Homo sapiens: one gene and its partners. The protein of the gene in region 3 interacts with the protein of the main gene of each other region in a pairwise test. Each region holds a gene or a part of one and is shown on either strand. Other genes may lie near its edges.

Evidence for each region. Proteins that work in one complex are often made in the same cells at the same time.
Region 1: the proteins of MAGOHB (region 3) and TADA2A interact in binary tests that used the Homo sapiens proteins (3 or more experiments, as listed by UniProt).
Region 2: the proteins of MAGOHB (region 3) and SPDYE4 interact in binary tests that used the Homo sapiens proteins (3 or more experiments, as listed by UniProt).
Region 4: the proteins of MAGOHB (region 3) and ZNF398 interact in binary tests that used the Homo sapiens proteins (3 or more experiments, as listed by UniProt).

The regions. Positions count from the first base shown.
Region 1 is NC_000017.11:37,409,886-37,413,385, forward strand, and holds part of TADA2A (transcriptional adapter 2-alpha), read left to right. Parts: intron 1-1,383; 5' UTR 1,384-1,480; coding exon 1,481-1,505; intron 1,506-3,500. UniProt on the Homo sapiens protein: Component of the ATAC complex, a complex with histone acetyltransferase activity on histones H3 and H4. Required for the function of some acidic activation domains, which activate transcription from a distant site. Binds double-stranded DNA.
Region 2 is NC_000017.11:8,752,950-8,755,546, forward strand, and holds part of SPDYE4 (speedy protein E4), read right to left. Parts: coding exon 2,571-2,597; intron 541-2,570; coding exon 372-540; intron 249-371; coding exon 189-248; 3' UTR 145-188; intron 1-144.
Region 3 is NC_000012.12:10,607,152-10,610,609, forward strand, and holds part of MAGOHB (protein mago nashi homolog 2), read right to left. Parts: intron 2,791-3,458; coding exon 2,680-2,790; intron 2,233-2,679; exon of another isoform or gene 1,947-2,232; intron 786-1,946; coding exon 703-785; intron 1-702. UniProt on the Homo sapiens protein: Required for pre-mRNA splicing as component of the spliceosome. Plays a redundant role with MAGOH in the exon junction complex and in the nonsense-mediated decay (NMD) pathway.
Region 4 is NC_000007.14:149,167,953-149,171,452, reverse strand, and holds part of ZNF398 (zinc finger protein 398), read right to left. Parts: intron 1-3,500. UniProt on the Homo sapiens protein: Functions as a transcriptional activator.

The DNA of each region.
Region 1 (3,500 bases), on a different chromosome or scaffold from region 3:
GGTGGCTCACACTTGTAATCCCAGCACTCCAGCACTTTTGGAGGCCGAGGTGGGCGGATCACTTGAGGCCAAGAGTTCGAGACCAGCCTGGCCAACATGGTGAAACCCTGTCTCTCCTAAAAATACAAAACAATTAGCCAGGTATGGTGGTGGCACATGCTTGTAATCCCAGCTTCTCAGGAGGCTGAGGCACAAGACACAAGAATCAAAAATGAGAACCAAATGGAGAATGAGAATCCCTTGAACCTGGGAGGCAGAGGTTGCAATGAGTACTCCAGCCTGGGCAACAGAGCCAGACTGTGTCTCCAAAAAAAAAAGAAAAAGAGACTTAGTCTGTCCTCCAAGCTGGAGTGCAGTGGTGGCTCACTGCATCCTCGACCTCCTAGGCCCAAGCGTTCCACCTCATCCTCCTGAGTAGCTGGAACCATAAGCATGGGCCACTGTACCCGGCTAACTTTTTTTTTTTTTTTTTAAGAGATGGGGTCTCCCTATGTTGCCCAGGCTGGTCTTGAACTCCTGGGTCCCAGTAATCCTCCCACGTCAGCCTCCCAGAGTGCTGGGATTACAGGCATGAGCCACTGTGCCTGGCCCTGTTACGTACTTGTTGAAAGAGTGAGGAACAAATGTATGTTGTAATAGATAGGATTTTTTGGTTTCCAGTTACAGAAACTCGTTCAGTCTTATGATTAAAGTTGAGTTTATTAAAGTTTATTAAAGAGAGAGAAATGAGAGAAGAGTTAAACAGTTGAGCCACCTGGGGCTAGGGATTTCAACAGCCAGAGCACATGGACTGAATTCTTTGAATGAATTCTAGTGAATAACTAAGCTCCAACTGCCTTCTGTCCTTTCATGTCTTACTCAAGATCCAGATTTCTGGAAGAAGAGACCTGGTTGCTTTAGCTTTTGTCAGGGGTGGGGAATGGGGTATTGTGATTGGCAGCCCCACCAGTATCACATGAAATGTGGGAGGGTCAGTTTCCCAAATAAAGATGGCAGCTAAGGAGAGAAATGATGCTGAGTAGAGAAAGCCAACAGTTGTTTATTAGAAATATGTAGCATTTGCCCCTGCCACCCTCAGTGCCCCATAGACCCAGATCCTTCCTCATAAAAAAGAAAAATATGTAGCATTTATAGAGGACCAGGTACCATGCTACATTACTTATATGGATTATGATATTTGATTATAACATTTAATTCTCACAACTTTGGAAGGTAGGCACTGTTATACCCACTACAGAGGAAGAAACAGGTTTTCAGAGGTGGAATAATTTTTCAACATTACAAAGCTAAGATGTGGCAGAGCTGAGTATGTTGCATATCTTCTCTTTATCTTGTCCCTTTGAATGATTTTCTGATCCATGTGCCACTTTTGTTTGTTCCTAGGGAGTCATCAAGCTTTGGTGTATGTGTTGGCCGGTTCTGAAGTCTTGAAGAAGCTCTGCTGAGGAAGACCAAAGCAGCACTCGTTGCCAATTAGGGAATGGACCGTTTGGGTTCCTTTAGCAGTAAGTACAGTGGGAACAAGTCTCAGGTGACTTATTATTATTTTTTTTTTGAGATGGACTCTCCCTCTGTTGCCCAGGCTGGGGTACAGTGGCATGATGTTGGCTCACTGCAACTTCTGCCTCCCGGCTTTAAACGGTTCTCCTGCCTCAGCCGCCTGAGTAGCTAGGACTACAGGCGCGCACCACCACACACAGCTAATTTTTTTTATTTTTATTTTTAGTAGAGATAGGGTTTTACCATGTTGGCCAGACTGGTCTTGAACTCCCGACCTCAGGTGATCCACCCACCTCGGCCTCCCAAAGTGCTGGGATTACAGGTGTGAGCCACCACTCCCGGCCTTCAGGTGACTATTAATAGCAAACTAGAGTGGAAGTTGATCAAGGAAGAAAAATAAACGATGAAGTTAGGCAATAAAGCCCTTTGACTCTGATTCTAAGGGAATTATGAGTATCAAAATAAAATCAATTAATACATATTGATTACCCATTGAACACATGACACAAACATATGACCCTGGGTCTTACAAGAAAATGAAGCAGCCGGGCGTGGTGGCTCACGCCTGTAATCCCAGCACTTTGGGAGGCCGAGGCAGGCAGATCACGAGATCAGGAGATGGAGACCATCCTGGCTAACACAGTGAAATCCCGTCTCCAGTAAAAAATAAAAAAAATTAGCCAGGCATGGTGGCAGGCGCCTGTAGTCCCAGCTACTTGGGAGGCTGAGGCAGGAGAATGGCATGAACCCGGGAGGCGGAGCTTGCAGTGAGCTGAGATTGTGCCACTGCACTCCAGCTTGGGCGACAGAGTGAGACTCTGTCTCAAAAAAAGAAAAAAAAAAAAAAAAGAAAATGAGGCTGAGATGGACCAGGCATATTCTGATTAACCTGTAGTTAAACCTAGAAAAGCCATGGGATTTCTGTTTAGACCAATAACATGTTTCAGGCACCTTGATAAGAAATGTGTCAGTGGTAAGATAAAGGAAAGATCATCCCACCTCCCCCTTGATGTGGAACTTGTTTCTAAGAGTAAACCACGGTAGAATAATTTAGAGAATTATGGGGTATGTATGAAGTAAATTCAAGTAGCCATAACTATGGATAAAAAAATTATACTGGCCAGGTGCCATGGCTCACGCCTGTAATCCCAGCACTTTGGGAGGTCGAGGTGGGTGGATCATGAGGTCAGGAGTTTGAGACCAGCCTGGCCAACAAGGCAAAACCCCGTCTCTACTAAAAATACAAAAATTAGCTGGGGGTAATGGCGAGTAACTATAATCCCAGCTACACGGGAGCTGAGGCAGGAGAATCGCTTGAACCTGGGAGGCAGAGGCTACAGTAAACCAAGATCATGCCACTGCACTCCAGCCTGGGTGACAAGAGCAAGAATCTGTCTCAAAAAAAAAAAAATTATACTGCTCTTTTTCCCTGATTCTGAATATATGAGATTTGGCAGAAATAGAAATTCCATTGTTAGATGTTTAGTAGTATCCTAATGAGAAGAATCAGAAAAGTACTTTTTGGGTGTTGTTTCCTCTTCAACAATTCGTGTTTTTTTTGAGATGGAGTCTTGCTGCATTACCCAGGCTGGAGTGCAGTGGCATGATCTCGGCTTACTGCAACCTCCACCTCCCGGGTTCAAGCAATTCTCCGTCTCAGCCTCCCGAGTAGCTGGGAGTATAGGCGTCTGCCACCACGCCCGGCTAATTTTTGTATTTTTAGTAGATACAGGGTTTTACCTTGTTGGTCAGGCTGGTCTTGAACTCCTGACCTCAGGTGATCCACCAGCCTTGGCCTCCCAAAGTGCTGGGATTACAAGCGTGAGCCACCGCTCCCGGCCTGACAGAACAATTTCTTAAAGGAGCTCTAATTTACTTTTTGATCACACTCCTAATATAAATTTAGGAGAGAATGGAGTCTTCAGACACATCTAGTTCAACTCTTTCATTTTACATGTAGAGAAATCTAAGTGGACTGCTCTAATGCTGGGAGTGTCCAA
Region 2 (2,597 bases), on a different chromosome or scaffold from region 3:
GGACGCCCGGCTAATTTTTGTATTTTTGTGGAGACGGGGTGTCGCCATGTTGACCAGGCTTGAAGCTGGATCAAGCAGTTGAGTTCCTTGGATTTTCTTATAGATGAGAATATTCTGCCTTTACCCTGGAGGATACACACGTACCTTCCCTCAGGCCGATGACCTCAGGCCTCCATGTCCCCGGAGCTCTAGGAAATGAGGGTGCGATCTCGGGCCCACACCCAGTGCTCTGGGTCATAAGCCTGGATCTGGAAAAACACACACCACTTGAGAAGCCAGGGATTCCCCAGGAAGCCCCCTCTCTGCCCTCCTCCAGCCTCCAGTCCACCCCATCCCTCCCCACCCCCACCTCCTCATATGGCCCCACCTACCTCCTCCATCTCCTCTGGGGAAACCCACGTCCTCCAGCGCATGGAACAGAGGAGCTGGTATCGAAGCTTATGGAACAAGGGTCGCTGGGAGTAGTTCTTCCCGTAGAGGAAGGAGAAGATGTCTTGTTTCGGGGCCTGGTTGTCCTCCTCCATGTCACTGGCCAGGTAGCTGGGGAGAGAGATCAGGTTGCTGCTCAGGGGCCCCACCAGGAGGGACCCCTGCCTGAGGGCAGCCTCTCAGAGAGGAGGGCAGGGGACCTTCCTCAGCTCAGCACCAACAGCCGCCCTGCAGAGAGCCCTGCCTTCCTCAGGAGGCCCCGCTGGACAGAGACCTGCTAAGGGTGCCTCTCAAACCTTCAGGAAGGAGATGATCCAAGTGGTAGCTGGGAGTGGTGGCTCTTGCTTGGAATCCCAGCACTTTGGGAGTCCAGGCAGGAGGATCACTGGAGGCCAGGAGTTAGGGACCAGTCTGGGTAATATGGCAAGACCCCCTCTGAATTTAAAAACAACCCAAGTCTTATGCTAAGGATGTGTCCTGCCATCCTTATACAAGACAGATGACGTCACCTCATCCTAGTCCCCATCCCTGTTCCTCCCACACCCCCCTTCCTTGTCATGTATGCACACACCTGTCTTCCCCCGTGCATCATAAGTGCCCCCAAGGACAGGAACTGACTGGTGTGTTTCTGTAAATCATCTCTCACCTACCAAAAGGCCACTAGAGGGCTTTGTTTATCTTGGTGCATTAATTCAACAAGCATTGCTGTGAACTCTCCCTTCCCATCCTTCCTATTCCCTGGCACATATGATGAACTTCATAAGGTTTTGTTGAATAAATGAATACATGAATGAATGAAGGAAAGAAGGAAAGATTTATCTTATAGGCAAATGCCATATGAATTATTCCATAGAGTCAATATAACATGAGCACTTGCAAAATGAAAAGAATTGTGCTGAGTGTTTCAGGAATACTTTGATATTTTGGCTGATTGGGTGGCTCATGTCTATAATACCAGCACTCTGAGAGGCTGAGGTGAGAACCCAGGAGTTCCAGAACAGCCTGGGTGACATAGCAAAACGTCATCTCTACTAAAAATCATAAAAACTGGCTAGATGTGGTGGCATGCACCTGTAGTCCCAGCTACTCAGGAGGCTGAGGTGGGAGCTTCACTAGAGCCTAGGAGATGGAGGCTGCGGTGAGCTATGATCTGGCTACTGCACTCCAGCCTGAGGGACAGAGCAAGTCTCTGTCCGGTAAAGATAAAAACAAAAAACTTTGATATTTTGACAAGACCCTGCCTTCAACAGGGGTCTACTCTGATGGGTTTGGGGAAAAGGAGGGCAGATAAACGAATCCAAAATGTCACATTATCCTAGGATGTCACTAAAGTGCTGTGGGCGTGCAGAAGCTGGAAGATCAGGGGAGGCATTGCAAAGGCTGTGGGGTTGAACTGACTTTAAGGAATGGGTCATTCCCTTCAGATCCACATGTGTGCAGGACACCCAGACAGAAAACACAAAATCAAAATGGAGTGGAGGGCATTTGGAAGGAGTGGCGAAAGCAAACAAGGAAAGATGAAGATGGTGGGCAGGTTTGGTGGTAGAAGGACTGCAGAGAGGGTTGAATTAGCCCTGTGGACCCGGGCCTCCGTTTAGAGACAAATCAGCTAAGGAGGTTGTTCAGGTGGGCAGTGAAGGGGGGGTGGGAGCTGTGCTTTGGAAAGCTATTCAGGCAGCACTAGGAAGCCCCCTGGCTTGGGGCAGGACTCGCAGGAATGCCCAGCAGGGAGTATTTGATGATGGATCTGTGTTATGCGAGGACGACCTGAATTTCTGCCTCTGTCATGGGAACCTGGAGAAGGAGGATGGAAAATTGCATTTGGTGTTGATATGGGAAGGAGAGAGACGAGAGAACCAGAAATGGCTGCTTGCTTGGGGAGCAGGGTCGTGTCCACGGCTTTCCTTTCCCCTTAGGACGGGTTTATGTTTCCTTTTGTTTGATTCTACTATTTGTCAACTGCATTTGTGTTTGTTTTTAGAAAGAACAGACTAAGAACACCATAGTATAATCTTATCGTTTTTATATACAGAGTAAAGAGGAGAAGTAGGGTAAAAAAATAGATGGAAGGTTGGAATCCCACTTCGTCCACTGTCCCAGGGTGTTGGATATTGACAGATGGGAAGAAGCAAACTACTCACAGAGCCAGGAAGAAATGAATGCGTTGG
Region 3 (3,458 bases):
TTCTCCTTTCCACTAACAAATATTTATTGAAAGCATCTATTATGTGCAGGGCACTATGCTAACTCTGTGGATACAGCAAGGTTCTCAAGGAGCTTACATTCAAACCAGTAAAGCAGACAAATAGGTTATTACAATTCAGGGTGACAGAAAAAAGTAAGAGCACTATGGGGACACTTTGAGGGGAATGGGCACAAATAAAAATAAGTGGCTAGGATCAGACCAAGAAAATGGGATGTGCTACAAAACCCTGGGGCAGAGGAGAGACAGATCTTGGGAAGACATCGATAGCTAAAGCATACTTAGGCCATAATGGATTTTTTCCATCTTTTTCCCAAGTATTGAGCCCAAGAAGGACAGTGAGATGATATAGGCCTAATGAGGCTGACATAATCCAATAAGGATTTCTTTCCTTTGGATTTGCTGATACTGTATCCACATTTTTATACAAAGTAGCTAATACAACTTGGGCATTATTATATACAGCTGTTGGATTAAAAGTTTTTGGACAATCAATGAAATACTCTGCTAACTTCTACTGAGAGACAAGATAATAAGCCTTTAATGACATAAAAATCAGGATTACATCTGCATAATAAACTGATAGGATGCCACTGAAATTATCTTGGCTAGCAAACTGACTATAGTTCTAAAATGAGCCTCTGTAATAATGAAAACTTCGCCAAAATGCTTTAACATACTTACTTTGACTGATTTACATCAATAAGAGAACCTATTTTTGATGTGGTAAAAGATATGTGCTCATCTCCAATTACAATTTCAAGCTCCTAAAAAATATAGCAGAAAAATGTAGTTAATATAAAAATCTATCCCAGAGGTATCTGTATTCTTGCTACAAGCAGATCCCAATTTTAGTTGCAAGTTTTCTAGCAGCCAACAGAGGGAGTGGGGGGCGAGGGGGAAAGAAACATGGTTTCTTAGATATAAACTATATCCTTAAAATAAAGACTGCTCACGCGCACTACCCCCAAGTTTAGGACCAACAAAGAATTGCTTTCCAGAGACATAAAGAAGACACTATGAAACAAAATGACAAAGAAATATTTCTTACAATGTCAGTAAAAACTAAAGACATCACTTTGAAGCACATGTTGTAAAAATGATTGGAGTATAAGACCATTTTTAATATGATAAATACACATTTTTTCTTTCTGGAAGATTCTACAAATAAAATGTGTAATATTAATAACCACCACCACTTTAGCACCTACTGTATGTCAGGCCCTAGTGGTAGGGACTTTGTACTCTCTGTAATCTTGAAAATAACCTTACTAACCTATTTTACAAATGTGTAATCCAAAACTCATAGAGCAGAAGAAAATACTTGTTGATATTTATAACCACTAATAATGATGGTACTTATATTTGATCCCAAGATGGTAAGACTTCAAAACTAATACTCCACAAAATAACTAAAATTAAGAACTAGTAAAAAAAAAAAAAAAAAACCAACCTAATGTAGATGTTCCTAGTGTGCTGTAATTACTGTATAGATTTTTCCCTATATTGTTTATCTGCAGGCCTAAAACCAATAATTAAAAAGCTATATCTGTAATGAATCTTCAAGTTAACAGACACTATTGAAGACAATCCTAGCTATTTATTTAATCAGAGGCCTAATTATGCAGTTTATGACACACACAGAATGGAGAATTAGCTAAGATGCTCTAACAGCCATAAAACCTTTGACTTGATACAAAAGGCAATTTCTGAAGCATGCCTACTCCTCCCCACTAACCAAAACCCATGAACACATCCTTAAGTGAATAGATAAAATACTAGGCTCTCCCTGAGTCTAAATGATATAAAAGGTTAGCTGCTGTGGTTTGCTTTTTAGTACATATGTGTATCTGCATAAAACAAACTGAGGCCTAAATTTACTTTTTAAAAGTGATACGATGCTTAAAATAAATACTGTTAACTATTACCTTTGCTTTTCTAAATAATGCTTCTTTAAGCAGAAGACTTAAGTTACTCCTACAGAGTGTCAGCATGTGTTAGATTTCTCCACATTTTCTTCTATTCAAAGAAGGTGATACAAAGTACAATCCTCAGGGATATACAAAAGTGAAATTAAATGTTTCTTCCTTCCAGGGGTTGTTGAAGGAATTTCTCCAAGAGTTGAAAAGACCCAATTCAGAAACCAAACTTTCTTTTTACAGAGTGAAATTAGGCCTTCAGAGTTCTTCAGAAGCCTGAGAAACATCATTTATTCTGAAGGAATATGAGAGGGAAATGCAATCATCAGTTTTAACAAAGAAACCACCAATCAAGTTTCTCTCTGGGGTATAGGGATGCAAGTAAGAATTTTAGAAGTTATGATTTGGCAAAAATAAATTTTACATAGTCATATTCTTAATAAAAGTGATTAACACACAACAGAAATTATTCATAACACTGCATTGTGAAAACATCCTAACGTTGGCTGGGGTGACTACAGAGAAAGATGTCTAAATTTAGAGCTATGCACTGACTCCTTCACTACTAGGAGGTAGCACAGAAAAACAGAACTAAGAGATAAAATTAAAGAGAATTTACCAGGTGCCTATTAAATAGAAAGCCAAAGAATCAACTTAGACTCATTCCAAATAAATAACGGGAAACAAAATAGTATTATCAATTTTTAATATTTATACACTTAAAGAATCACTAAATACAAACCTGTCGGCCAACCCTATCAGGGGGAGGCCACAAAGCATCATCTTCTTTTGTAATTTCACTGTCATCAATAATTCTCTTCAGTTCTTCCATTACACTCTTGTGCACATAAGCCTAAAAATTAATCATAATAAAATGAGATAATGCCCACCTATGTCACCCCTCAACTCAGAAAGAAATGAGTTACAAACCCTGAATATCCAAATAGAGGAATATAGAAAAATTTAATTGATTCCAAAAGTAGAGGAGACAGAATCACTTATCCTTGTTACACTGCTTTTCTTCATCTCTTGCCCTTTCCTTTCACATACATTTTTTCCCTCTTCTCATCATTACCTGTCTTTCAAACACTGTATTCTGCCTTTGCAACACTGAGATCCAAATACCCACAAGTGGTTAACTTGTGTCATCACAAGATCTATAAGGTGAACTGTAATAAATGCAAGTATACTGAGGCAGGAGAATCGCTTGAGCCTGGGAGGCAGAGGTTGCAGTGAGCTGAGATCAAGCCACTGCACTCCAGCTTGGGTAACAGAGCGAGACTCTGTCCCTAAATCAATAAATCAATAAATGCAAGTGTAGTTCACGTCAAGGTTAGTTCTCTGAACTTTCTCATTCCTATGGATGCAAACACTGTATCTAATTTAAATGGAAACTCTTTCAATCTATAAATTGCCTTCTTCTTTACAATATAGCCTTAGATGTACTTTTTTAAATTCAACACAGACTTGAAGAAAATGGGCTAAATGCAAAAAAAAAAAAAAAAAAAAAAAAGACATTCA
Region 4 (3,500 bases), on a different chromosome or scaffold from region 3:
AAGTTGCAGTGAGCGGAGACTGCGCCACTGCAATCCAGCCTGGGCGACAGGGCAAGACTTCATTTCAAAAAAATAAGTAAAAAAATTTAAAAATAGGAAAAAGTTATAGAAAAAGGGTATAAAGAAAAAATATTTTTGTATATATGTACAATATGTTTTACACTAAGTGTTATTACAAAAGTCAGAAAGTTATAAAATAATAAAAGTATATTACTATATTATAAAGTAGTATTATAAGTATATTACTGTATTATAAAGTAATACAGTAAGCTAAGGTTAATTTATGGTTAAAGAAAAAATTTCTTGGCCAGGCGCGGTGGCTCATGCCTATAATCCCAGCACTTCGGGAGGCCAAGGTAGGTGGATCATGAGGTCAGCAGATCGAGACCATCCTGGTTAACATGGTGAAACCCCATCTCTTCTAAAAAAAAAAAAAAAAAAATTAGCCGGGCGTGGTGGCACGTGCCTGCAGTCCCAGCTACTCAGGAGGCTGAGGCAGGAGAATCACTTGAACCCAGGAGGCTCAAAAAAAAAAAAGAAAAAATGTTTCTATAAATTTAGTGTGGCCTAAGTATACAGTGTTTATAAAGTCTACAGCCTAGTAATGTCCTAGGCCTTCACATTCACTCACTGACTCAGTGAGAACAACTTCCAGTCCTGCAAGCTCCATTCATGGCAAGTGCCCTATAGAGATGTACCATTTTGTATTTTTTTTTTTGAGATGGAGTCTCGCTCTGTTGCCCAGGCTGGAGTGCAGTGGTGTAATCTCGGCTCACTGCAACCTCCGCATCCTGGGTTCAAGCAATTCTCCTGCCTTGGCCTCCCGAGTAGCTGGGACTACAGGCGCCCACCACCATGGCTGGCTAATTTTTTGGATTTTTAGTAGAGACAGGGTTTCACCGTGTCAGCCAGAATGGTCTCTATCTCCTGACCTCATGATCCACCCGCCTTGGCCTCAAAGTGCTGGGATTATAGGCATGAGCCACTGTGCCCAGCTCATTTTGTATCTTTTACACCAGATTTTTGCTGTACCTTTCCTATCTTTACATGTGTTTACAAACACAATTACCATTGTGTTACAATGGCCTACAGTATTCAGGACAATAATATGCTGTACAAGTTTGTAGCCTAGAAGCAATAGGCTATACTATATAGCCTAGGTACATAGAAAGCTACATCATCTAGTTTGTGTGAGTTCACGCTGTGATGTCTGCACAATGACAAAATCAACTAATGATGCATTTCTCAGAAGATATCCCCATTGTTCAGCAGCGCATGATTGTGTTTGTCAAACAGTGTGGTATATGCAGAACACGTGCTTTCCTTCTATGAGTCTGGAATTTGGGTAAGTGCTAGACAGAGGGTATGCATGTGATTAGCCCCCAATAAAAACCTTGGGCACTGAGTCTCTAATGAGCTTTTCTGGTTGTTACAACTCATTACTGGAACAATTAAGCATATCCTATAAGACTCCACTGGGAGAGGACTCTGGGAAGCCTGTCCCTGGTTTCCTGCAGACTTTGTCCCAGGTACCTTTTCCCTTTGCTGATATTACTTTGTATCATTCTAACAAATCTTGCTGTGAGTACAACCATATGGGAATCCTGTGAGTCCTCCTAGCAGATCACGAAATCTGGGAGTGGTCTTTGGGCCCTCCAACAGAGCCAGGAGCATATTTTTTTTTAAGAAAACAAGTACTGAGGTTGGGTGTGGTGGCTCAGGCCTGTAACCCTAGCACCTTGGAAGGCCGAAGCAGGTGAATCACTTGAGTTCACGAGTTCAAAACCAGCCCGGGCAACATGGCAAACCCCCATCTCCACAGAAAATACAAAAATTAGCCAGGCATGGTGGTGTGTGCCTGTAGTCCCAGCTACTTGGGAGGCTGCGATGGGAGGATGGCTTGGGCCCAGGAGGCACAGGCTGCACTGATCTCAGATCATGGCACTGCACTCTGATCATGGCACTGCACTCTAGCCTGGGCAATAGAGCCAGACCTTGTCTTAAAAACAAACAAACAAACGAAAGAAATTGTGAAGCTGACAATTTGATCAACCAACAGAAAATAACAGGCCAGGCACGGTGGCTCATGCCTGTAATCCCAGCAATTTAGGAGGCCGAGGTGGGTGGGTCACCTGAGGTCAGGAGTTCAAGACCGGCCTGGCCAACATGGCAAAACCCCATCGTTACTAAAAATACAAAAATTAGCTGGGCATGGTGGCACATGCCTATAGTCCCAGCTACTCAGGGGGTTGAGGCATGAGCATCTTGAAAACCCATGGTAAAAACAAACTGACAAGATAACAGCAAAATGAAACTTTGATACGTTATCACAAAACCTAATTACTTGTTATCTTTTTCACCCATCCCATAAAATACAATGATATATTCATTTGTACTTGCTGAGGTCTATGACAGATAACTAATAATGTAGACCAAAGAAATATACCCAATAAGAAATCTTTCTGTAGTCAAGTCACTCATCTTTATTGGTGGTATTATTTTAGCCTCATTACTTATATCTGTGATATAAAGATTAGTAAAATGCAACGTGTTACACTGACTAAATGCAATCACCTACACATTCTTAAAAAATAATATGGCCGGGCGTGGTGGCTCACTCCTGTAATCCCAGCACTTTGGGAAGCCAAGGCGGGTGGATCACTTGAAGTCAGGAGTTTAAGACCAGCCTGGCCAACATGGTGAAACCCCATCTCTACTAAAAACACAAAAATTAGCCGGGCGTGGAATCCCAGCTACTCAGGAGGCTGAGGCTGGAGAATCACTTGAGCCTGGAAGGCGGAGGTTGCAGTGAGCCAGGATCACGCCACTGCACTCTAGCCTGGGCGACAGAGTGAGACTCCATCTCAAAATAATAATAATAATAATAAATGTGAGGCAGATGTGTACATTGCTTAAAACTCAATTAAGACTTGAAATTTCATTATATGTAAAATTTACCTGAAAAGAAAAAAACAAATATTGAACTCTAGGTTAATAATATTCATGCTGAACTATTTACAGGAAAATGCATTGATGTCTTCACTGATTTTGAAATACATCAAAAATAGGATAGATGGCTGGGTGCGGTGGCTCATGCCTGTAATCCCAGCACTTTGGTAGGCCAAGGCAGGCAGATCACTTGAGGTCAGGAGTTCGAGACCAGTCTGGCCAACATGCTGAAACCCTGTCTCTACTAAAAATACAAAAATTAGCCAGGCGTGGTGGTGGGCACCTGTAATCCCAGCTACTCAGGAGGCTGAGCCAGAGAATCACTTTAATCCAGGAGGTGGAGGTTGCAGTGAGCCAAGATCGCACCACTGCATTCCAGCCTGGGCGACAGAGTGAGACTCCATCTCCAAAATAAATAAATAAATAATAGACGGATGGCTGGATGGAGTGATGCAGTGATAGATATATGCATGATAAGGAAGGATGGTATAATGTTAGTGGCAGAATTTAGGCGCTGGATATCCAGGTGTTCACTATAAAAATATTTTAAC